Linked DNA regions of Homo sapiens: region 1 is linked to region 2. A link means that fine-mapping ties the variant in region 2 to the plasma level of a protein whose gene starts in the linked region. Region 2 holds a variant in brackets. A gene starts in the other region. All regions are shown on their forward strands. Region 1 holds the start of OGN (osteoglycin). Region 2 overlaps QSER1 (glutamine and serine rich 1).

The links. A credible set is the group of variants that fine-mapping cannot tell apart. PIP is the posterior inclusion probability: the model's chance that the variant is causal. The UK Biobank Pharma Proteomics Project read protein levels with antibody pairs (Olink). The fine-mapping took linkage between variants from a reference panel, not from the people measured, so its PIPs are less certain.
Region 1: it holds the start of OGN, and the variant in region 2 is the best candidate, but not a certain one, in a credible set for the plasma level of the OGN protein (UK Biobank, PIP 0.54).

The regions. Positions count from the first base shown.
Region 1 is chr9:92,401,359-92,409,358 of GRCh38, forward strand. It overlaps OGN (osteoglycin), which reads right to left and starts at 3,220. Exons shown (of 7, transcript NM_014057.5): 1 at 3,138-3,220; 2 at 1,876-2,124. The coding sequence starts at 2,049. The region is part of intron 5 of CENPP (centromere protein P); the gene reads left to right.
Region 2 is chr11:32,897,613-32,913,978 of GRCh38, forward strand. The region is part of intron 1 of QSER1 (glutamine and serine rich 1); the gene reads left to right. Among named protein-coding and RNA genes, the nearest start is that of QSER1, 13 kb to the left of the region's middle. RefSeq lists an enhancer at 1,982-2,171. The variant G/T (reference allele first, on the strand shown) is at 8,620.

The DNA of each region.
Region 1 (8,000 bases), not on the chromosome of region 2:
TTTAGCTTGTTTTTATTCTAGACTATGAGCTCCTTGAGTAAAAGAACTGGGTGTTTTTATTTTTATATCGCCAGTAGCTACACTCAGTGCTTAATAAATGTTGAACATCCTGAAATTCCAAATGAAAGCTAGGTGAGAATTCCCTGAATTGGAATGAAAGTTTTTCTGAGGTGAAACTGTTCCTCAGGGGTCTTGTCTGAACTGAGTTTCTCATTCAGATTCTACCATTTTGAGTAAGACTAGAGCTCCAGCCATGTCACAAGTATAAACTACCAATTAAGGTCTTTAGGTCTCTTCTTGGGGTGACCCTTTAATTACCTATATCCCTCCATTAAGCCCTGGCTCTTGGATCCCTTTTATTCCAGCTTACCTTACCTACCCTGCTTGGGCCACTGGGGTAGGCCATTAATTCTGGGGAAATTGGAGTAGATACAATTTAGATCCTGTCTTTCCTGTTCTTGGAGAGTACGTTTTCTGCCATTAGATTACAGTGTATTATGTGGTGTCCTATTCTTTCTGTCCTTTGTAAGCATGTTCCATTTTAGTCTCGGTCTTGACTCCTGACTCTGCCCTTCACCTTCATTCTCCCATCTGTGTGGTGGTTGAACTTCCTCCCTCTACTCTGTGTTTGCACATCAAGTCCTGTTGAATTCTACTCCACTCCACAAATATCTTAGACCCTGCATTTATATTAAGATAGAGAAACTTCTAAAGCCCTGTAAAGAGAAGAAGCAGAGAGAAAAATAATCTCTAAACTCTTTAGGGATCAGGGAATCTTAATAGATTCAAATCATCCAAGTGAGCCAATAGCCTATGTTATGATGGGACTTTTTTTTCTTTAACTTGAAGCTATAATTAGTAATACCTATCCTTTGTGTCTTAGTGATGGGCAAAAATAATGCTATCATATTAAAAGCATTAACTGAAAGAAAGAAACTGTGGTGTTAACATTTGCTCATTGTGTACCCCTGCAAAAAAGAAAAGAGAAAGTAGCAATTATAACTGGTCAATCTTATAAGTCTTTATCCTCCAATTTATAGTGGAGAAGAACTTCTGAAACAATCAGTATTGTTATATATTTGGCTGAATTTCTCATTTTCCAGTGTGTATGTGTATGTGTCATACATAGTGGGCAACAGATACTTAAGTGCTGTATTAACTTTTTCCTTACCCAGCATTCATTTCTGTGTGCCAAGAAAACCACAAGTAATTAGTTTGCCCATAAAGGTGGGGAATGAATGATGTGGTATAACGTCACCCTTGCAGTGTTAACTCAAAGACAGTTACAGTTACTTGGTACCAATTGATAGAGGGTCTAAACTGTTAAAATTGATTTAAAAAGAAAGTCCTATATTGACTAGGTTTTCAGTTTTTGGTACTGTATGTAGATGGCATATATAAATTATTGTGGAATGCTATTGATATCAAAATAACCAGTACTCTTCTATGTATTTTCTTCAAATTGTTTTCTATAATAATAACCTTAAGCTGATAATTCATCTTTATTTCTCCAAATACACATTTCCGCTAATTTATTTTTGAGGCAACACAACATTGCAAGTATAGGGCATTGTGTAACATTACTTAATATATAAATTGCAACTGGTGAGGGATCATCTTAAAGTCTAGTTTTCTTTAAGTTTTATTTTTTGGTTACTATAGATACTGTTTGGTTACCATAGATACCATTTATTAATTTGGAAAGCATACATACTCTAAAAATACAATCTTAGGGACAATTATTATGAATTCGTTTGAATCATTTAAAGTGATTTTCCCTTCCCCTTACCTTATCAGACACATTCAGGAAAAGCAAAAACATGCATTTAAATGGGCAGTATTTTAGAAGCTAAATTTAGAATAGAAATAAAGTACCTTAATATTTTTTCCATCCAGGTATTTATCCTCATAATCTTGGCTAAATATGGATTCTTCAAAATTATCTGTTCCATAATCATAGATAATGCGTGAGTCCTGCTGGGTTGGTGGTGCTGGCTTTATCAGAGGCACAAGCAGTAACAGGAGAAGTGTAGACTGCAGAGTCTTCATTTTAGCAAAAATCAAGGTGACTGGAAGTTAATAAACTAGTGGCCTGCTGACTGTGGGACAAAACTCTCTTTTTCCCTGGAAATAAAAATTCAGACCATCGAAGCAATATTTAAAAGCTTAGAGGATGTTTTGGCAGGGTGTGCGCAGTAAGGGCCAGAGAACAGTATTTAACCCTTAGTGATCTTTAATTAGATGCTAGCAGTTTTTATGTATCAGTGAACATTCTGAAAAATAGTTTTGGAAAATAGTTTTACTTCTCTATCAGAAATTCAAGAAAGATTGATAATTTTAAGTTTCTTAATAATTAAGTGCCTTCAGCAGACATACTAATATTTAATTGAAATATTCTTAGGATACCTGTAGTATAAATAGTTAAAATAAAGTCCCAAGATCCTGTCTCATGTGAGTTAAAAATATCATATTTCCACTTAGCTACTTTATAAGAACTCTTGATTTATATTGGTATGAACAGAAACAAGTTCCAAGAAAAGTTTTAAAACTTAAATTTAACATTATGAAAAGTAGTCATTAACACCTTTAGGTGGTACAGAATATAGGAAAAGCCATACGTTTTTAATTTTCTTAGTTTTGTAATTTTAATAGGTGATCATAATTTTTAGTTAATAGTATTGTATTTTTAATTTAAGCTAAGAAAACTGAAAGAATAGTATTGCAGGCTAGAGGAAATACCGAACTTTAATCAAAGAACTTTGAGGAATGTAATAGAAAGGATTCCTTTAGGCTCATCAATGGATTTTCTCTGGTGGGTACACATTTCAGACTTTTTCTTAAGTAACTTCAAACAGAATCACTCAAGAGTTGCTGATGCTGCATTATAGATGCCAGTTTGTCAAAAATCCAGAGGTTGAAAATGAAGAAGATAATGGATTTGTGACTTCTGCAGCACCCTATTCTTGCCTGCGTGGATGTTAAATTTATGCGATGATATACATAAGTACTTCTTAAAAATTAATTGAGGTAACTGAAACTTAAACCAGAGATGGCCTTTACATTTATTAAGACTATTAGATGAGTCAGTCGCACTTTAACAAACAATATTTAAAATAATATATGAAAAGTAAGCCTACCGTTGTAGCTGTTTTGAAGTTTTTTGTGGTTTTCCTCAATAGATGTTCATGTCTGTGCATTAGCCCCAAGTGGGAGGGTGAATGAGAAAAGCTATGTCTTGATTTCAAACTGCTGAGTAAAATTTCAGGGCCCAGCAGCTTTAAGAACAGTTTCCATGTGGTAGAGATCTTTGCCAGCATTCTTTCTCTAGGGTGAAATGCAGTGTGTTGTACTAGAGAACTGTGCTTAAGTTATTTGTTGTAACTGCTGCACTCAGTCTGCTTCAACTAATTTGACTATAAACTTGTGTGATTTTATTATTGTGTAATAAACATTCATGTTTTGGTGAATATTAGTTTATGAAAAATGATATAGTTTTAAAGTCATCCTTTTCATTTTGGTGATTTCCCAGGAGATCAAACAATCTGCTTTTTGAATGAAATAGGACACCAAATGACAACATAGTCCATGTTGTTAATTTTATGAGGATTAAAAATATTGCCCTAATACCATAATTAATATATAGCCAGTGTAATATATTTTTCCAGTGTAAAAATTAGTTTTAGCACAAATTATTTGATAGTTTTGTCATTTGGATTTTTTCTCCCCTTTATTTTAGTTACATATAAGAAAAACTGATGCATAAAAATTAGCTTTTTAAAAGTAAATTTGATTTATAGTTTTTGAGGTTGATAGTAAAAGATACTTTTGTTTGCTGAATGAAGGAAACTTTATAAAATTACTTTAATATTGAAATTGGCTTTTAAAAATTAAAGTGGCATTGTAGATACCATACAAGCAACTTTGAAGATTTTTTTAAAGAGTCACTTTTAAAAAATTCCTCCTTGGTGCTTTTACCAATCAAATTAACTTTTCTCCTTTAAGCTAAAAATTTAACAAATATGGATATATATTTTATTAAAATAGAAAATGAAAGAATAACAATTTGTTTTCTTTTCTAGACAAAATTGTTTTAGAACCTTTCAAATCAAAGCTTAAATAAACTAAGACTTGAGCACTGAAGTTTTTATTTGAATGTGAATTATCTTAAATTTAATTGTGATATTGTCTGGCTTGAGTTGATATAAATTGTTGGTTTTATGGCTTCAAGGATACAGTAAAACTTTTTTAAATACTTTGAAATATATAATAATGAAACAACAGACATTGATTTGTTTTGTATTGTGTGGCAAGTTAACAAGATATTGAGAAGTAAGCTGGATAGATACCATATGTCCAAATTTAGAGAATCTTAGAGATTCATAGTTTCATTAATGGTACACTTTGATGCTTTGTACTACAGAAAATTATTTTGTGAAGAACAACTTTCCTTGAAAAGTTATGACCAGTGAATACAATGTTATTAGCATTCACTCATTTAATAAAAGTTTATTGAGCGCCAATTCTGTGCCAGGACTTCAGACACGTAAGCTCAGATAAGCAAACTTCAGTTTCTTCCCTCAAGGAAGATTTATAGCCTCTAAGTCAGCAGGAAAAGCAGCAAACAAGCAACTAGAATCCATGGTAGGGCTTGCTACACAGAAATATGCAGAGTTCTGTGATAACCTGGGAGAAGCCACAAACTGACTGGGAGTCAAGGAGACTGCACCCAAACTGACTTCTATAGAGAGGATAGGAGAGGAGGGTAAGCGCAGGTGATGAGGTATTCTAGGCAAGGGGATCATCACGTGCTCCCCTTAGGGAGGGGATGGGGGTAGATCATTCAGAAAATTTATAATTTGTTTTGCATACTGCTGGAGCTTGGAGGGAGAGAGAGAAGAAGTCAGGGGGATGGACCATATTAAGAGATGCGACTAGACAGGGGGAATAGAGGTTGGATTAAAGAAAGTATTTTATATCCTGCTAAAGTATTTGGGCTTTAGTCTGTAGTCAGTGAGAGACCATGTAGAGATTTTTAAGCCAGTGATGGCTTAAATATGATCCTGTTTGCATTTTAGAAACATTCCTCTAATGTTGCATTGCTGAAGAATACCACTGTTCATCTATTGTAGTGGTTATCTATTACTGTGTAAAAAACTACCACAAAGGAATGGCTTAGTTAAAATAACACACATTTATTATCTCACAGTTTCTGTGGGTCAGGAATTTGGCGTGTCTTTGCTTGATGGTCTGCTTCAGGATCTGCATTTGAAGTGCATCTGGCACTGCAGCCTCACTTCAGGGGTTGAGTAGGGAATGATCCAGTTCTAAGCCCATGTGGTTGTTGACAGCATTCAGTTCCTTGCAGAATGTGAAACTGTGGACGTAAGTTTCTTGCTAGCTGTTGACTGACGGCCTCCCTCAGTTCCTTGCCATGTGACTTCCTCAAAAGGGCAGCTCACAACATTGCAGCCTGCTTCTTCACAGCTAGAGGAGGAAATAGTCTTCTGGCAAGATGGGTATTACCCGCACTTCTGATACCAACAGCAATTTCAGGAGATTCCTAGAACCACTCTTATTACATTTGATAATTCCCTAGAAGAACTCTCAGAACTCACTGAAGACCATTATACTCATGATTATGGTTTATATAGAAAAAGGATACACCCTAAAATCAGCCAAAGGGGGAGATGCGTAGGGGCAGTGTCTAGAAGGCTCCAGACTTGAAACTTCCATTGTTCTCTGGATGCATTGCCTTACGTTGATATGTGGCAGTGTATGTGGGGTATTGCCAACCAGGCAAGCTTATTCTCAGTGTTCAGAGTTTTTATTGGGGCTTTATTAATAGGTTTGATTGATTGATTGATTGAATTCAGCCTCCTGGTCCACTGATACTACATAACCCAAATCCCTTATCCTACATCACGTGGTTGGTCTTCCTGGCATAGCCACCTCTACCTCAAGACTATCAGGTGTGGCTGATCTCACCCTAAACAAAAACACTCCTATCAGAAATAACATAGATCACCTCTCAGAAGCCAAGGCAAAGCCCAGACCTCTCTTTAGGCAAAGCCAAAATCTTTACTACACAGTACTCAATATAAAATGCTTGAAACTGAGGTGATTTTCTATTCCAGAAAGAATTGAATGCTGATAGAAAGCTATTTAGCTTTTACTCTACAGGAGTAAAAGATGAAAGCTGTCTCATGCTCAAGAGCAGGCATTGTATCCAAAGATGAAAGAGTCTTCTTTGTGGAATTCTTTTTATGAAGGCAAGGTCTTGCTCTGTCACCCAAGCTGGAGTGCAGTGGCACGATCATGACTCTCTGCAGCCTCAACTTTGTGGGCCCAAATGATCCTCCCACTTCAACCTTCTGAGTAGCTGGGACTACAGGCATGCACCACCATGCCTGGCTAATTAAAAAAATTAAAAGAATTGTAGAGACGGGGTCCTCTTATGTTACCCAGGCTGGTCTCGAACTTTTGACCTAAAGTGATCCACCTTGGCCTCTGTGGAGTTCTTTTAGGTGACCCTATTGTATTATCTTTGGTGCCTTATAGGGGTTTTATTTCCTCAAAAGTGTACCATTTGTCTGTTGGCAACCAAAAAAATGTGTTGAATGGAATGGAATTTTGGAAACAAGAGCTTCCAGGGAAAAAGTATTTTTGGGGAGTGGCTTAATTCTGATAGAGACCATATGACCTCCAAGTGGATTAGCTTTCAATGAATGCTACAAACCAGAAGAGTCTTTCCCCCATCTTCATCTTCATTCTCTAACTTTGTAGGAAATAGTTTGGTTTAGGAGTCAAAACACCTGAGTTCTAGTTTTTGTTTGTTTGTTTGTTTTTGAGACGGAGTCTTGCTCTGTCTCCAGGCTGGAGTGCAGTGGTGCGATCTCAGCTCACTGCAACCTCCGCCTCCCGGGTTTAAGCAATTCTTCTGCCTCAGCCTCCTGAGTAGCTGGGACTACAGGCATGCGCCACCACGCCCAGCTAATTTTTATGTTGTCAGTAGAGACAGGGTTTCACCATGTTAGCCAGGATGGTCTCGATCTCTTGATCTCGTGATTTGCCCGCCTCGGCCTCCCAAAGTACTGGGATTACAGGTGTGAGCCATTGCACCCAGCTGAGTTCTAGTTTTGATTCTTCATGAACCTTCCCCTGACCTTGGCAAGTTCTTTAACGTTTTGGGCCACAGTTTTTTTATCGATTGAACTTTTATCGATTGAATCGGGTTACTACAGAGTTCCTCAGCCTCTGCACTACTGACATTTTGGACCTGATAATTCTCTGTTGTGGGGGCTGTCCTGTGTGCACTTTAGGATGTTTAGCAGCACCTCTGCCTTCTACCCACTAGATGCTAGTAGTTGCACCCCACCCCCACCCCTACTTTGTGATGACCAAAAATGTCTCCAGACATTGCCAGCTGTCCACTGATGGGTGGGGGTTGGGGAAGCAAAATCATTCGTATTGATAACTGCTGAGTTACTAGATACACATAGACCCTTTTTAATCCAGCATTCTGGATTTTGTGGAAAGTCTGTGGTTTGGATCTCCGTCTTAAATCTCATACTTATGCTTGAAGCCTAATTGTTTGTTCAAACAAGAAATATGAGAACCCATGTATTTTACTTCCCAGACTAAAGGGTAAAATTTATATGGAGAGAATTATGACTCAATGTAAGGAAGAGCTCATGGTAAAATTGTATTTTATTTGTTAATTTAGTTTTTCTCAGTAGTACATAAATCTCTGTATAGTGAATTCATAACCTAAACAAGTAAAGTGATGCAAGATGTGTCCATGATGTTATGATATTTACACCTAGGCAGATTTATAACTTGGAATAGTTATATCAATTTAGGAAATTGGAACATATAAGAAACTTCAGATGTGTAGCCATTATGATTTAATTTTGTTTCCAGCTGCTCTTATGCTTTATTTCCAAGATGTAGAAGAAATGGATTTAGAATCAGGAAACCAGGGTTTTAGGTCTAGCCATCCT
Region 2 (16,366 bases):
GGATTGATAAATTTCTTGTTCATTCCTTGCTTTCTCCTGCGGACTCACATCCACGTCCATGCTTTTAAATACTATCTCAGTGGAGATGCCCATATTTGAGCAGACTCTTCTCAGGACCTCAGACTCTTCTGAAAACCTGATCACATAACCAACTACCTCTTTGACCTTTTACTTGAGCTTAATGATATGCTTTCCCCACCCATCACACCTCTGCTTCTCTAGTGAGGCCCATCTCAGTAGTCATACCTCTGTCCACTTAGTTGCCCAGGCCAGATGGTGGGAGTTGTGTGTGCTCAGTCACTAAGACCTACTGTTTTGAATCTAATGTCTTGAAACTGTCTGCTTCTTTTGTATCCACTGCTCCAGCTGGTCCAAGCCACCATTATTTTTCACTTGGACAACTGTGGTAGCTTCCTAACTTAGTCATCTTGGACCTTTTCTTTCCTCTCTTCAATTCATTCTTCTTATACCATCCAGAGTGATTTTTAAAAACACAGATCTACAAGTTTGCTCTTGGTCCTTTGCTTAAAGCCTTTCCATGGCTACTCCTACATATTAGGGTCACATTTTTAAACATCTGTAATATGGTCAGGCGTGATATCTCACGCCTGTAATCCCAGCACTTTGGGAGGCTGAGGTGGGAGTATTGCTTGAGCCCAAGAGTTTGAGACCAGCCTACGCAACGTGGTGAAACCCTATCTCTACAAAAAATAAATAGAAAAAATTAGCCGTGCATGGTGGCGTGCGCCTGTGGTCCCAGCTACTCTGGAGGCTGGGGTGGGAGGATGGCTTGAGCCTGGGAGGTGGAGGTTGCCGTGAGCTGTGATGGTGCCACTGCACTTCAGTGTGAGCGACAGAGTGAGAACCTGTCACACACACACACACACACACACACACACACACACACACACACACACATTGTAATGTGCTCTGTATGGCTCTGCGTTTACTGACCAATTTTTTTTAATTTATTTTCTTTTTTATTTTTTCTTGAGACAGGGTCTAACTCTGCTGCCTAGGGTGGAGTACAGTGGTATGAACACAGCTTACTGCAGCCTCGACCTCCTGGGCTCAGGTGATCCTCCCAAGTAGCTGGGACTACAGGCATGTGCCACCACACCTGGCTAATTTTTAAATTTTTTGTAGAGATGAGGTCTTGCTATGTTGACCAGGCTGGTCGGGAACTCTTGGCCTCAAGCAGTCTTCCTGCCTTGGCCTCTCAGGCGTGAGCCACCATGCCTCGCACTGGCCTGTATTAAATTCTTTGAATCATCCTAAATTCCTTCTTACCTTAAGGTTTTCATACATCGTCTTACCTTCACTTAGATAACTCTCACCCTATCCCCACCTCCCAGACTGACTTGTTAAGGTATCTCATGTGAGAAACCTGCAGTATTTTCAACCCTCACTCCTTGTTGCTTTGTGCAATGGTATATGTTTTCACAGAATATTTTATTTTACTTTCATATTCTTAGAAATATATACCTATGTATTGTTTATGTAATACGTATCTTCTTCAGAATGGAGGTTATTTGAAGAACCCCTATGTGTTTTGCTGTTATATTTGTAGTACTTAGTATTTACTTTAATCCATGGCATATAGTTGGTGCTTAATACATACTTATATCATGAAAGCCAGAACTCTGCTTCAGTGTGGGAATTGGAAGCCCCTTTCTTCCTGTTGCAGCCTCTAATGCCATTCCCCCTCTACCCTGTAGTTGGGACCAAGATGAAGGGTAAGTTTGTGATTATCTTTGGTTAGCAGGGTGGGGATATGGGCTACTACTTGTTTCTTCCTTTCCTTGGTATGTTCTCTGGAACAATGAGTACTAAAGTATGTCTACCAAAACACAGTTTTCTTTTATTCATTAAACAAATATTTGAGTACCTGCAATTGTTAAGGCAGTGTTACCTGTATCTCCTTGAGTTATATTTCTGCAGTGAAAGCTTGAGAAATCAAGTGACAAGCATGCAATCACTCATTAAAATGTAGTGGCCATCTCTCAGTTTCTGTTTCTCAGCTGAGTTCTGCAGGGTGCCACAAAAATGAAAAAAAAAACACTGTCTTGCCTCTGAAAGAACTTGTGATCTGGAGGGTGAGAGGGTAATGCACTTGCTTCCTCTCTGCTTGGCTTCTAAATGTTGAAGTGCTCAGAAACTTGGAGTTCTGTCCTTTTTTCTTTTCTCTCCACTGACCCTAGGTGTAGTTGCCATATATGTGAGATGACTTTCAAATTTACATCTCTGGATTCATATCTAGCATCTGACATCTTCATTTGAATATTGAATAGGTATTTCCAAAATGACATATCCAAAACATGATTGTCACCCTCTCAACCTGGGCCTCCTCTAGCCTTCCCCACCTCAGTAATTATTATCACCATTTACTCCATTGCTTATGTCCAGAAGGTTAGAGCCATCCATGATTCATTTCATTCCTTCCCATATTGAGTCCCTCAGCAAATCCTGTTGGTTCAATCTCCATATCCATAATTTCCTGCATGGATAATTGCAGTTGCCTCCTGTTGCTTTTCTTGCCTCCTTTTAGGCCTTCTGTAATTTATTAAGTATGCAACAGCCAGAATTAACTTTTCAAAAGTATAGGTCAGGTAATGTCATTACCCTGCTTAGAACCTTCCAGTGTTAATCAGTAAAATCCAATGACTTGGTCAGGTGTGGTGACTCATACCTGTAATCCCAGCACTTTGGGAGACTGAGGCAGGATCACTTGAGGCCAGGAGTTCAAAACCAGCCTGGCCAACATGGCAAAACCCTGTCTCTACTAAAAATACAAAAATCAGCTGGGCATGGTGGCAGGTGCCTGTAGTCCCAGCTACTCGGGAGGCTGAGGCAGGAGAATAGCTGGAACTCAGGAGGCGGAGACTGCAGTGAGCTGAGATCACACCACTGCACTCCAGCCTAGGTGACAGAGCAAGACTCCATCTTAAAAAAAAAAAAATCGAATGACTTATCGTGGCCTACAAAGCCCTGCATGATCTAAGCCTCAGCTAATTTCTCCAACCTCATGTCATTCCCCTCCCACCACCATCCTTCAGCCATACTGGCTTTACTTCTGTTCCTGAAACATGCTAAGATTATTTGTGTCTTAGGACTTTTGCACCGGCTATTCTCTTTAACTGAAGTTTTCTTTGCAGGTCTTTGCTTTGCTGCTTCTGCTTTTGCTGATTGTTAGGTCTTTCCCCACATGTTACCTTCTCAGAAAGGCCTTCTCTGACTGCCCTGTCTAAAGTAACTGCACATCACTGACACATGACAGTTTTACCTCTTCAGAGCATTCTCACTCTCTGGAGTAATTTTGTTGATTTATATGTATCGTTTATTACCACCCTTTCCCGATACCACTAACCATCACTGATAGAATGCATGTTCCATGAGAACAGGGCTCTTTGTCTTGTTCACATCTGTACAAGGCAGGTTAGTATAGTAGTTGATAGCATAAGCTCTGGAGTTATAATGTTTGAGTTTGTATTTTGACTCCACCACTTGCAGTATGATCTTAGACAAGTTTCTTAACCTCTCTGTGCCTCAGTTTCCTTATGTAAAATGAGGACACTTAGAATTCTTGAAGATTAAATGGAAAAACTTAGAAAAGTATTTAGAGTGATGTCTAGCATATAGGATAGCATATAGATTATTAACTTTATTGTCAGCACTGAGAAAAATGTCTGATGCATTGTGCCATTAAACATTCAATGAATGAATGAAATAACTGCTATTAATACTTGCCAGACTATTCCAGAGGTACAAAAATAATTCAGGGACTTAGTGGGGAAAATTATATTGAGTTCAAGGGGATCATGGTAGCATTTGTCAAGTAGATTGCATACAAACTGATCTGAATTATTGCTAATGTTGCATAGTGGAATAAGGGATTAGTACAAAGAAGGAGCTCCTAAGAATAAGTGTTCTAAGAGGGAGGAAATGGAATCTGCTAGGCCAGTTAAGGGCTGGGCCTTGAACTGGCACAGCATCACTTCTGCCAGTCTGTTGGTCAAAGCAGTCCCTGGTCCATTGCAGAATTGTCATGGGAGGGAAACTACACAAAGGTGTGGTTCATTGGGGAGCTCACCAGAGTAACACTGTACCACAGAGCGTTGGTACTAGATTTTAGAGGGCTTCTGATGACAGATCATGGAGTTTAGTCTCTCCACTCTAAAGGATAGGGAATGGCCAGGCGTGGTGGCTTGTGCCCATAATCCCAGCACTTTGGGATGCTGAGATGGGCTGATGGCTTGAGCTCAGGAGTTTGAGACCAGCCTGGGCAACATGGTGAAACCCCGTCTCCACAAAAATACAAAAATTAGCCTGGCATGGTGGCATGCGCCTGTGGTCCCAGCTACTTAGAAGGCTGAGGTGGGAGGATCGCTTGAGCCTGGGAGGTGGAGGCTGCAGTCAGCCATGATTGTGCCACTGCACTCCAGTGTGGGCATAGGGAGTGAGACCTGTCTCAAAAACACAACAAAAAAATCCACATAAAATCTCTGTTCTTGTGGAGTTTACATTCTTGGGTGAAGGAGTCGGGCAGGCAAATTATTGAGAAAATTTTCTCCTAGAGGAAGTGCACTTCCCTGAGATCTGAGGAAGCAGCAAGTGCAAATGTCGCAAGGCAGGAACAAGCCTGGCAGTTCCCTTCCCTGGCAGGATCTTGCTGTAGCTCAGTGGTACTTCAGAACCACCCAGAGGGCTTGTTGAAACACAGGTTGCTGGGCCCAACTCCAGAGTTTCTGAATCCATAGGTCTTGGGTGGAGCTCAAGAATTTGCATTTCTAACAAGTTTGTAGGTGATTCTTATGCTGCTTGTCCAGTGAGGAGATTTTGAGAACCACTGACCTGGATCTTGTCAGTGTTGGCTTCTTGACATTCTTATCTCCTTAAATATCATCTCTTCGCAAAGAACTTCCTTGAGCACCAGATCTAAAGTCCCACCAGGTTTCCTTTGTTCCAACGCTTCTGTTTTCCCCAAAGTATTTTTCCTTAGCTGACAAGACCAGACAGGTGAGTTTAGGAGTCTGACTGGACATGTGTATAGAGACAATAGTGGAATCTCAGAGATTAAGGTCTTTGAGGGTGAAGAATGAAGGGCTGAGAACTGAGCCTTTGCCATTGTAGGTGATAGTGTCTATTACATGCCTACTATGTGCTGAGCACTGGCCTAATAATTTTATAGTGTTATCTCATTTAACTTCTCATAATAATTCTAGAATGTAGGTACTATTGTTAGCCCGTTATATAGACAAGGAAACTCAAGCAAAGAGAGATTTATTAATTTGTCCAATATCGTTGCTAGTAAGTGGCAGAGGCAGGATTTGAACCCAGGAGGTGTAACTTCAGAGACCGTGCTATTAATCATAAGCTTTCAGGGAAAAATCCTTTTGGGAAGTTGAGGGTATAGGATTAAATAGAATTGGCAAATGAAGTCAGAAAGAGGTTTAATGATAGAATACTTTGAAGAAGGATGTTGGGTCTTTGGGATTTAACATTTATGCTGGGAGGTTATATTTTCCATTATTTAAAAAATTAGAATCATTTTCCCAGAGCATACTTTTGCCAAAAGTTTTTGCAGAAAACTTGGGGACATGGGCTTATACCAGACTGAATGGTTGCCGTAGGGTATGGGTAGTTCAGAGATTTTAACTGAAGCACCTCTCATATTCTAGACACTATTCTGGGGGCTTGGGATACATGAGAGAACAAAACCAAGATCCTGAGGTGAATGGGTTGAGACAGCTAATTAGAAAATGAACATAACTGTACATTATCTAGTATGTTGGGAGGTGATACCAGAAAAAGAAAAGCAGAATTAGGCAGAATGGGATGTGGATGGAGGAGGCGTTGCAGATTTACAAACAAAGTGGACTGGGCAGGCTCATTGAAATGATTGAACAATGACTTGGAAGTGCTAACTTTTGAAATGAGAAGAAAAAATGTTACCTTGGGAAACAGGGTGCTTCAGTAAGTTTTTTATTTGTTTGTTTGTTTGTTTGTTTGTTTGTGAGACAGTCTTGCTCTGTCGCCCAGGCTGGAGTACAGTGGCGCGATCTCAGCTTGCTGCAACTGCAGCCTCCACCCCTGGGATCAAGCAATTCTCCTGGCTCAGCCTCCCAAGTAGCCGAGATTACAGATGCCCACCACCACGCCCAGCTAATTTTTGTATTTTTAGTAGAGATAGTGTTTCACTGTGTTGGGCAGGCTGGTCTGGAACTCCTGACCTCAAGTGATCCACCCGCCTTGGCCTCCCATAGTGCTGGGATTACAGGCATGAACCACCACACCCAGCCCCAGTAAGTTTCTTTTGCCCCTAATTCAAATGAGACTACAAGTTTTGTAAAAAACTTATCTGTTCCTTGGGTTAACTTGCTTACAGGAAATCTTATTTCTTTGTTTAATGTTTATCCCTATTGCTGCTTCTGGTGTTTTAATTTCGGCTACATGCTGGGTGACTTTGTTACTAGGCTGCTACTAACACAGTTTCCTTACATTGACTCAGGCCAGTCTAGCCAGGGCTTTCCAGTCTAGGCCTTTCTGCAGTCAAGGCAATAGTAAGCATTTCTTTTTCTTTTTTTTTTTTTTTTGTAGGGGAACAGAGTCTTGCTATGTCACCCAGGCTGGAGTGCAGTGGTGCAATCTCAGCTCACTGCAACCTCCAACTCCCAGGTTCAAGCGATTCTCCTGCCTTGGCCTCCTGAGTAGCTGGGATTAAGGCATGCGCCACCCCATTCAGCTGATTTTTGTATTTTTAGTAGAGACGAGGTTTCACCATGCTGGCCAGGCTGGCCTCTAACTCCTGACCTTGTGATCCACCCACCTTGGCCTCTCAAAGTGCTGGGATTACAGGTGTGAGCCACTGCGCCCAGCCAGTAGTAAGCATTTCTTAATGTGCTAGCCGTGAATATGAATATGTGTATGGATGCTGTATAATATGAAGAGGTAAATGAGAGGATGTGGGCCTGGTTTCAGCATATCCACTCTTTTTTTTTTTTTTTTTTTTGCAGAACCATCTTCTCTTTTACCTTTGAGTGAAACACAGTTTTTTCACTGTTCCTAAAATGGTGTTAGGAATGCTCTTATCTAGGGTCTTTGTGCTTTTTCCTGTGCCAGGACCACTTTTCCCTGAGATAATCTGCGTGACTTCCTCATGTTGATCAGTGGCCTCTGCTAGTACCCTCAAAAGAATGGTATGCACCCCCATCACCATCAACCCTGCTTAAGGTTTCTTCATAACATTTATCAATCCTTGATATAAATACTTCTCTGTTCTTGTTTATTGTAGTCTCTGTCCTTTAGCTTGGGTGTTTTTTGACAGTAGAACTTCAGCTGTGTTTTCCCCCACTTGCCTGGCATATAATAACTGTTCAATGAATACTGATTTAATAAAGAATATGTTTAATGGGGGATATTCTACTTTTACTTGTCTAATATTTCAGAGTTTAAATTTGGCCTCTGTAAGTTAACAACTCTTTAGGGATCCTGACCGTGTAGCTTGTCCTATGTTGCTAGGCATGTAGGCATTTATGGGGTGTAACTAAACATAAAATAATGAAATTTTCATATGGCCTAATGCCATCATTCTCATTACTGTGTGATCACTGATCCTGTTTAAGTAACTTGAGACCAGATTTGTCTGACCCAGTGAAGCAAACACAAATATGTGGATAAGCTAAAATACTTTTGCTTGGATCTGCTTAAATTAGATGGCTTAACGTTTTAAAACATTTCTCAGGTTGAGCAAAACTGCAAGATGAACATTACTCTGGTAAAGCAGCTGGTACTATTCTCACTAAAACTTTAGACATTAAACTACTTCAAGTCAGAGTTTGATTTGGCCAGAGCCACAAGGGACTGGTGGAATGATGTCAAAGTAAAAGTGTGAACCCTTCGGAAGGATGGGAATTAAGTAGAACTGTGCCTATGCCAGAAACTCCAACTCCTCAAGAAACCCAAAACTTAGAGATGGTCTTTTGCTATTTGTTAATACCTTTGTATTACTTTTTTTTAAACAGCAAGTTTTTGACTCAAATCTGATCCTCTAACATGGTAATGATTAGAATTGTTTCTAAGACTCGTAAGTTGTGTTTTAATAAGGCATAGGAGTTGAAAGTTCCAAACTTGCTTTTAAAAGCTAATCTAGTATACCAGCTAATTAATCTTGATCTACTGGGCTGCCTTTTAAGAAGGTCATGTTAGCACCATCTTCATAGATATCAAGCATATTTCACAGTATGTCTACTATTTGCTCTTAACAGATATGCTTATTAGGGAAAATTTAAAAGATAGTAAACTTGTGTGTTATGACATTTGATTAATATGTTATAATTTTTTTTGGTGTGTAACTTGTTTCAAAATATATACTCCTCTAAAATTCATTATAATTTCTTCCTTTACATTAGCCTTTGTTGTGAATTAATAATGCAGAACAAGAATTAGCCACCTTAAAGTTGATTTTCTCTACTATAAAAAAGACTATTTTTTAGTTTTTTTTTTTTTTTTTTTTAAGTTAAAAAAATTTGGGCTGGGCATGGTGGCTCACACCTGTAATCCCAGCACTTTGGGAGGCTGAGGCGGGTGGATCACTTGAGGTCAGGTGTTCAAGACCAGCCT[G/T]ATTAATATGGTGAAACCCTGTCTTTACTGAAAATACAAAATTAGCCAGGTGTGGTGGTGCATGCCTGTAATCCCAGCTACTTGGGAGGCTGAGGCAGGAGAATCGCTTGAACCTAGGAGGCAGAGGTTGCAGTGAGCCGAGATCGGCGCCACTGCACTCCAGCCAGGGCAACAAGAGCAAAACTCCGTTTTTTAAGAGACAGGGTCTTACTCTGTCATCCAGGCTAGAGTACAGTGGCTCTCTGTAACCTGAAGCTTCTGGGCTCAAGTGATCCTCCCACCTCAGCCTCCCAGGTAGCTAGGACTACAGGTATGTGCCACCATGCCTGGCTAAATTCGGGTATATTTTTGTTTTTGTTCATTGTAGAGATGGGGTCTTGCTATTTTCTCAGGGTGGTCTCAAACTTCTGGGCTCAAGTGACCCTCCTGCCTGACCCTCCCAAAGTGCTGGGATTATCAACATGAGCCACTGCGCCTGGCCAACAACAACACTTGTACAGAAAATTTCAAACCAAACAAATTTAGAGAGAAAAGTATAATGAACCCCTGAGTATCCATTACCCACCTTCAACAATTTTAGCACATGGTCAGTCTTCTTTCATGCATATCCCTACATTCTCTCCCAACTCCCATGTATCATTTCAAAGCAAATTTCAGGCTATGTATCTCTTTCAACCATAGTATGAAAGAGAACTCTGAAAGATAAAGACTTAAATTTTTTTGATATAACTACAATAGGTAGGATATTTTAAGGCAACCTATACATATTTCATTGGTTTTAGTACTTGAAGTCAATCTTCTAATAGTATAGTACAATTAAAATAGTATAAGTAGTATAGTACCGTTACAACAGGATAAAATACTACTGGTTTTATTATAAGTCTTTGGCTTACAAATTTGTGGACATTTCCTTAGGAAAACAGAAGCATCAAACTTTTTAAGCTTCTAGATGATTTCAGATGACTTTTCTAAAAGTTTGTAAGGAAAGAACAGCACATTGAGTATAAAATGAGTAATACAATTTTGGATTTTGATTCATCTGAACATATTCTTTTCTACCCTAAAATGTTATTAAATTCTTGTATTAAACCAAAGATATGAAAACATTTGTAATTCTAGTTCATATTCAGATGTGAATTGTGATAAATGTATTTTTGGACAGATTTCCTTTATCTAATGCCAGAAATAATAGACTATGTTAATAATAATACATAAAATTGTGTTGTAGTGAAAAATTGACTCTACGGTTTTCTCAAACAAGGGAGAAAATTTAATTTGGTAAATGAAAGACTAAGCCACAAACAAAAGGATACATTGAAAAAGCTGAAAAAAACATTTCGTAGCACCCATACATTTGAATCATGGAAATATGAACTGTGTTACATGTTGAGAAGTAACCAGCTATATGTTAGTTCATTTTTATTCATTCCTTTGTAGCCAAAATAAGAGATAACCATCCAGGGCCCATATAACCACTTTTGTCTGTCTCCTAAATAAACATGCCTGGTATTTACAGGTAGTTAGTACATGCAAACACAAAATAATTTGCTTTGATGGATGTATTTCTTTTAAAAGAAAAGCATAGGCTGGGCACGGTGGCTCATGCCTGTAGTCCCAGCACTTTGGGAGGCCAAGGCAGGCACAGATCCCTTGAGCCCAGTAGTATGAGACCAGCTTGGGCAACATAGGGAGACCCTCGTCTCTACAAAAAATACATAATTAGCTGAGCATGGTGGCATGCATCTGGAGTCTCAGCTACTCAGGTGGCTGAGGCAGGAGAATCATTTGAGCCCAGGAAGTCAAGGCTGCAGTGAGCCATGATCACCTCTCTTCTCCAGCCTGGGCAACAGAATGAGACACTTTCTCAAAAGAAAAGGAAAGCATTACAAAAAAAATACTGAAATATTGGAAATAAGGGGAAAACTTGGGACCAAAAAATCTTGTCTTTGTCCAGAAGAAAGATTGATAATGCAAATGATGACAAATAGAAAAAGAAGATGATGAAATGCAATTTTGGAGTTGTCCAATCCAGGCCTTGGTGGCTCTTGTTATCATGGATGTAGCCAAGCATATGCCATATCACCATCACATTTCATTATTTCCCTGTGAAACAGCAGACAGAAATTCTTAGCTGCCTTGACTTTGGCAGTATTTTTCTTGGGCATCAGTTACAAATGCCAACATCTGTCTCTTTTTGTTGTGAATACTCTTTGGAACTGATATATTGGTTTTTTAATATACTCTGCCACCCCACTAGATAGGAAATTCCATACTACTAATTTGACCTTTCTTAGTGAAAACAAACATCTTCTGTTTAACCAACTTGAGTGTATCATTTGTACAAAATAGGATTTTTGGTAAAGATCATTAATGATGTATATGGCCGAATAATATTTCATTGCATAGACATAGCACATTTTGTTTATCCGAACTCTTTTGATGGACATTTGGGTTGTTTCCACTTTTTGGTTATTGCAAATAATGCTGCTATGGACATTTGCATGTAACACTTTGTATGAACATGTTTCCGGTGTAAGTATCTGGGAGTGGAACTGTTGCAAATTTATGTTTAACATTTTGAGGAATTGCCAAATTTTTCTCCCCTAAAGTGGTTGTACCATTTTGTATTCCTATCAGAAATATATGGGCCAGGCACAGTGATTCACGCCTGTAATCCCAGCACTTTGGGAGTTTGAGACGGGCAGATCTCGTGAGGTCAGAAGTTCAAGACCAACCTGGCCAACAGAGCGAAACCTCATCTCTACTAAAAATATAAAAATTAGCTGGGCGTGGTGGTACACGCCTATGGTCCCAACTACTTGGGAAGCTGAGGCAGGGGAATCGCTTGAACCCAGGAGGCGGAGGTTGAAGTGAGCTGAGATCGCGCCACTGCACTCCAGCCGGGCAACAGGGCAAGACTCCATCTCAAAAAATGAAAAGAAATATATGGATGTTCCAATTTCCCCATGTCTGTGCCACACTTGTGATTGTCTTTTTTATTATTGCTCATTCATTTCTTGAAAAGTTTAGCATGTTTGACTCATCTGCCTCTTCTACCTCTATTTTCTCTAAAATTGGGTTCAAGGAAGGGAAGTATCTTTTATCATCAACAGCTTTATCGATTTGATATTTTCACTGATTTTTTTTTAAACTAAAAGATGACGTGAGATTATTCAGCAGTTGGTAGCCAAGTTCATTAAACTCTAGATCATTTTTTTTTTTTTTGAGTCAGAGTTTCCTTCTTGTGGCCCAGGCTGGAGTGCAGTAGCACGATCTTGGCTCACTGCAACCTCCGCCTTCTGGGTTCAAGCAATTCTCCTGCCTCAGCCTCCCAAGTAGCTGGGACTACAGGCGCACACCACCATGCCTGGCCAGTTTTTTTGTATTTTTAGTAGAGACGAGGTTTTGCCACATTGGTCAGGCTGGTCTCAAACTCCTGACCTCAGGTGATCCACCCACCTTGGCCTCCCAAAGTGTTGGGATTACAGGCGTGAGCCACTGCGCCTGTCCTAAACTCTAGATCCTTTAACATTTATTTTAAAAGCAATTTCTCATGAAACTTGGAGCTACTTGGGAGTCGTGTGTATGGGGGGGGTGTGGTCATGACATTATAAGGTGTATTTTGATTTTAGGATTCCCTTGGTATCGATTTTAGTTCGGAAACTAAGGGAAGTTGTGTAGCAGGTAGCTATGTTTAAAAAAATGTAATTTAGACACTCCCATGCTTAAAAATCCTTTGGTTTTCCATTGCAGTTGGAATGAAATCCAGACTCATTGTGCCCACAAGGTTTTCCATGTCTGACCGTTAACTACTACCTTTCCACGATCTCCTACTGCTCACCCACTTCCCTTAGTACACTCACAATATGCTGGTCTTCTTTCAGCTTCTCTATGTTCCAGACTCTTCCCACTTCAGGCCTTTTCCTAACTGTTCTTTCTCTTCCTTTGGTTTGGGGCAGGGCTTGCTTAAGATCCCTTCTTCAGGAGGCATTGCTGATTACTGTGTCCTCTTTCTCCCATAATCTCTATATTTAGACTTTTTTCTTCTTTATTCATTTGATAGAGTTTATAATTGTTTTATTAGTTGGTTTCCTTTTATTTACCACCCTGTCTCACAACTAAACTGTAAGCTCTTCAAAGACTTATCCTTTTATTATATCCCCAGTGCCTTGCTCATTGCCTGGTACATAATATCTAATATTTGTTGAATAAATTAATTTACCCTGCTCTGCCATATATTTGTTTTATTCTATTTTGTAGAATTGGCTAGACACTTGTATGCGGTTTAATACCCCATAGTTAACAATAGGTCATGATGGCAGGAACTTTGTCATTGTGTATGCCTTTCACTCCTACCTTTTGCATGCATATACTCAGTAAAGACATAGAGACTTAAGTTGAAATTTTCCCTTGAAAATAATGTTGAGCATGTTGAAATGGATACCTTAGAAATGTTCTGCAGCTACACTGCCAATATAATGAGAATTTTTAAACAAAAACTTTAAGATCAAAGGTAAATAGAGTAAAAATCAAAATGGACATTTTAGATCTAGGCCATAAATTAGGATTTACAAGCACTTTCTTCTTCCTGTTCCATACCTTTTCCTACCTCCCTCATGCCACTGTTATAACTACTTTATTGTTCCAGTTGGCTTTTTCTGTTTTGGTCCTAGCCTTCTGGTCCACAGAACTTTGTAGCGCGAGGGGTTGTGGGAGGAGATAGTACAATGTAATAATTGTATAGGTAATGTATATGTAATATGTGTGTTATAGCTGTGCTTGATTTATTATTACTGTCTCCTCAAACGGTTTCTCTAGCTGTCTAATCTTACTGCAGCAGTTAGTCCTCCTTTCTTGAAACTTACAGTTCCTTTGATTTTTGGAGACATTCCTGGTTTTCCTCTTAAGTTTTTAGTTAAACTTTCTTATTCTTCCTTATGGTTTCCTCTTCCTCTACCTTTCCCTTAAATCTGCATCTCAGGTAATTGATTTTAAAAGTACCAAGTTATGACATGGACACAGAGAGGGGAACAACACACACCAGGGCCTCCTGGGGGTGGTGGGGGAAGACGGGAAGGAACTTAAGAGTATGGGTCAGTAGGTGCAGCAAACCACCATGGCATATGTATACCTGTGTAACAAACCTGTATGTTCTGCACATGTATCCCATTATTTTTTAGAAGAAATAAAAAAATAAAAAAGTACCAAGTTATGAATGATTACTCATTGTCTTTAAATAAGATAGAGTTGATCCCTATGATATGGTTTGGCTCTGTGTCCCCACCCATATCTTATCTCAAATTGTAATCCCCACATGTCAAGGGAGACCTTGATGTGGAAGGTAACTGGCTCATGGGGGTGGTTTCCACCATGCTGTTCTCACGATAGTAAAGGAGTTCTCGTGAGATCTGACAATTTAAAAGTGGCAGTTTCCCTTGCACTTGCTGTCTCTCCTGCCACCTTGTGAAGACATGCCTTGCTTCCCCTTCACCTTCTGCCATGATTGTAAGTTTCCTGAGGCCTCTCCAGCCATGCTGAACTGTAAGTCGATTAAACCTCTTTTCTTTTTAAGTTACCTAGTTTCACATCATTCTTTATAGCAGTGTGAAAATGGACTAATACACCCTATAATAGTATTGTTACTCATTTATTTCTGTGATATCTTAAGTGGAAGAGGGAAGAGTGGTACTTCAGTTGAGTTGCAAGGAATTTTGATTTGCAGATAAGTAACATCCTTGAGAAGCAGGAAATTAATGTATTTTGGTCATATGTGTAAAGCAGTGTCTCTATAATTTCTGCCCTTAGCCCACTTCTGATGTGACTCACTCTTGGACATTTTCATTTACTTCCATGACTTCAAAAAACACTCAATTTGTAACGATCCCCAATTTTTTATTTCCAGCTCAGATTTCTCTTCTGAGTCCTAAGTAGGAATATTCATTAGCCCTCTTTCAATTATTTCTCACAACATGTCTCTTTAACACCTCAAACTCAGTGCTTTCAAAATTGAAACCGTCCATGTTTGTTCAGCCTTATGGGTGGCTCACTGTCATTCATGATTCCTGTCTTCCCCGCAAGTCTTCTCAATTGTATTTTTTAAGAATTCCTAAGTATCTAGCTATTGCCACTGTTTTGCCCTCATAATTTCTTACCTGGATTTCTGCAGTAGGATCTTGGCCTTCTCTCTTTAAGGTTTGTTCTGTTCTGCACAGTATTTATCAGATTATCTAAGATAATGATTCTTTTGAACTTTTCAAAGTGAACTTATAGGGTCCCATGTCACATGTCAGAACTACTAATCAATAATTTCTGAAAGGGAGATCTGGATGTATATAGTTTGAAAAAACTAACCAGGCGATGCTGATGAGCATCGCCTGGTTACAGACCATTCTTTAGGCCAGGCAAAGTGGCTCACGCCTTTAATCCCAGCACATTAGGAGGTGGAGGTGGAAGAATCGCTTGAGTCCAGGAGTTCAAGACCAGCCTGGGCAATATAGGGAGACCTTGTCTCTATAAAAAGATATTTAAAAAACTGGCCAGACATGGTGTCGCACGTCTTTGGTCCCAGCTACTCAGAAGGCTGATGTGGGAGGATTGCTTGAGCCTGGAAGGTCACACCTAGGGTGAGTTATGATCACACCACTGCACTCCAGCCTGGGCAACAGAGCAAGTCCCTGTCTCAAAAAAGTATAAATTTAACTCTTACTAAAATTCTTGAGAGGCTCTTGATTCCCTTGAAGATAAAATGTGAGATCCTTATTTTGGTATATAATATTCCATAGTTTGGTTCCTGTCTACCTCATATCCCTGTTCTCCAATACAACCATGCTGAATTACTACAGTTCTAATGTGCCATCTTAGGGATATTTCTAGGTCTTCATATATGTGATTTTTATCTTCTTGGAACCTTCTTTTCTTTTGCTTTCCCTGGATAATTTCTCCTCTTCCTTTTTTTTTTTTTTTTTTTTTTTTTTTTTAAGATGGAGTCTTGCTTTGTCGCCCAGGCTGGAGTGCCGTGGCGCGATCTCGGCTCACTGCAAGCTCTGCCTCCTGGGTTCATGCCATTCTCCTGCCTCAGCCTCCCGAGTAGCTGGGACTACAGGTGCGCGCCACCATGCCCAGCTAATTTTTTGTATTTATTTTAGTAGAGACGAGGTTTCATCGTGTTAGCCAGGATGGTCTCGATCTCTTGACCTCATGATCCGCCCACCTTGGCCTCCCAAAGTGCTGGGATTACAGGTGCGAGCTACCGCACCCGGTCTTTCCTCGTCCTTTTAATACTCAGTTGTCATGTCCTAGAGGAAGTCTTCCCAGATTGTGTTATGTTTATTTACTTATGCTCTTTTATTTCTCTAGTTCCTAGCATAACACTTGGCAGTCAGTAAATGTCAGTTGTATAAATGCAGAACTTACCTTTAGGTGCAACAATAGTAGCATTGATTCAGCATTCATTATGCGCCAGTTGCTGGACTGTGCTAGTTGCTGCTGACCGTATGTGCTTTATTGTTTACTCTCACAACAACCTGATGAAGGTAGGTGTTACTATTACCCATATTTTACTGTTGAGGAAACGGAGACTTGGTTAAGTCTAACTAATTGTCTGTGTGGCTAGCCTCTAAGTCACAGAATTTATATAGAACTGGATTTGAATCCTGTGGCCTGTTTGCAGAGCTATGCTTTTATACAGCTGTTACACAGTTGTTTCAAAGTTCCCTCGTTTATTTTTTCAAATTCATGATAAATAATT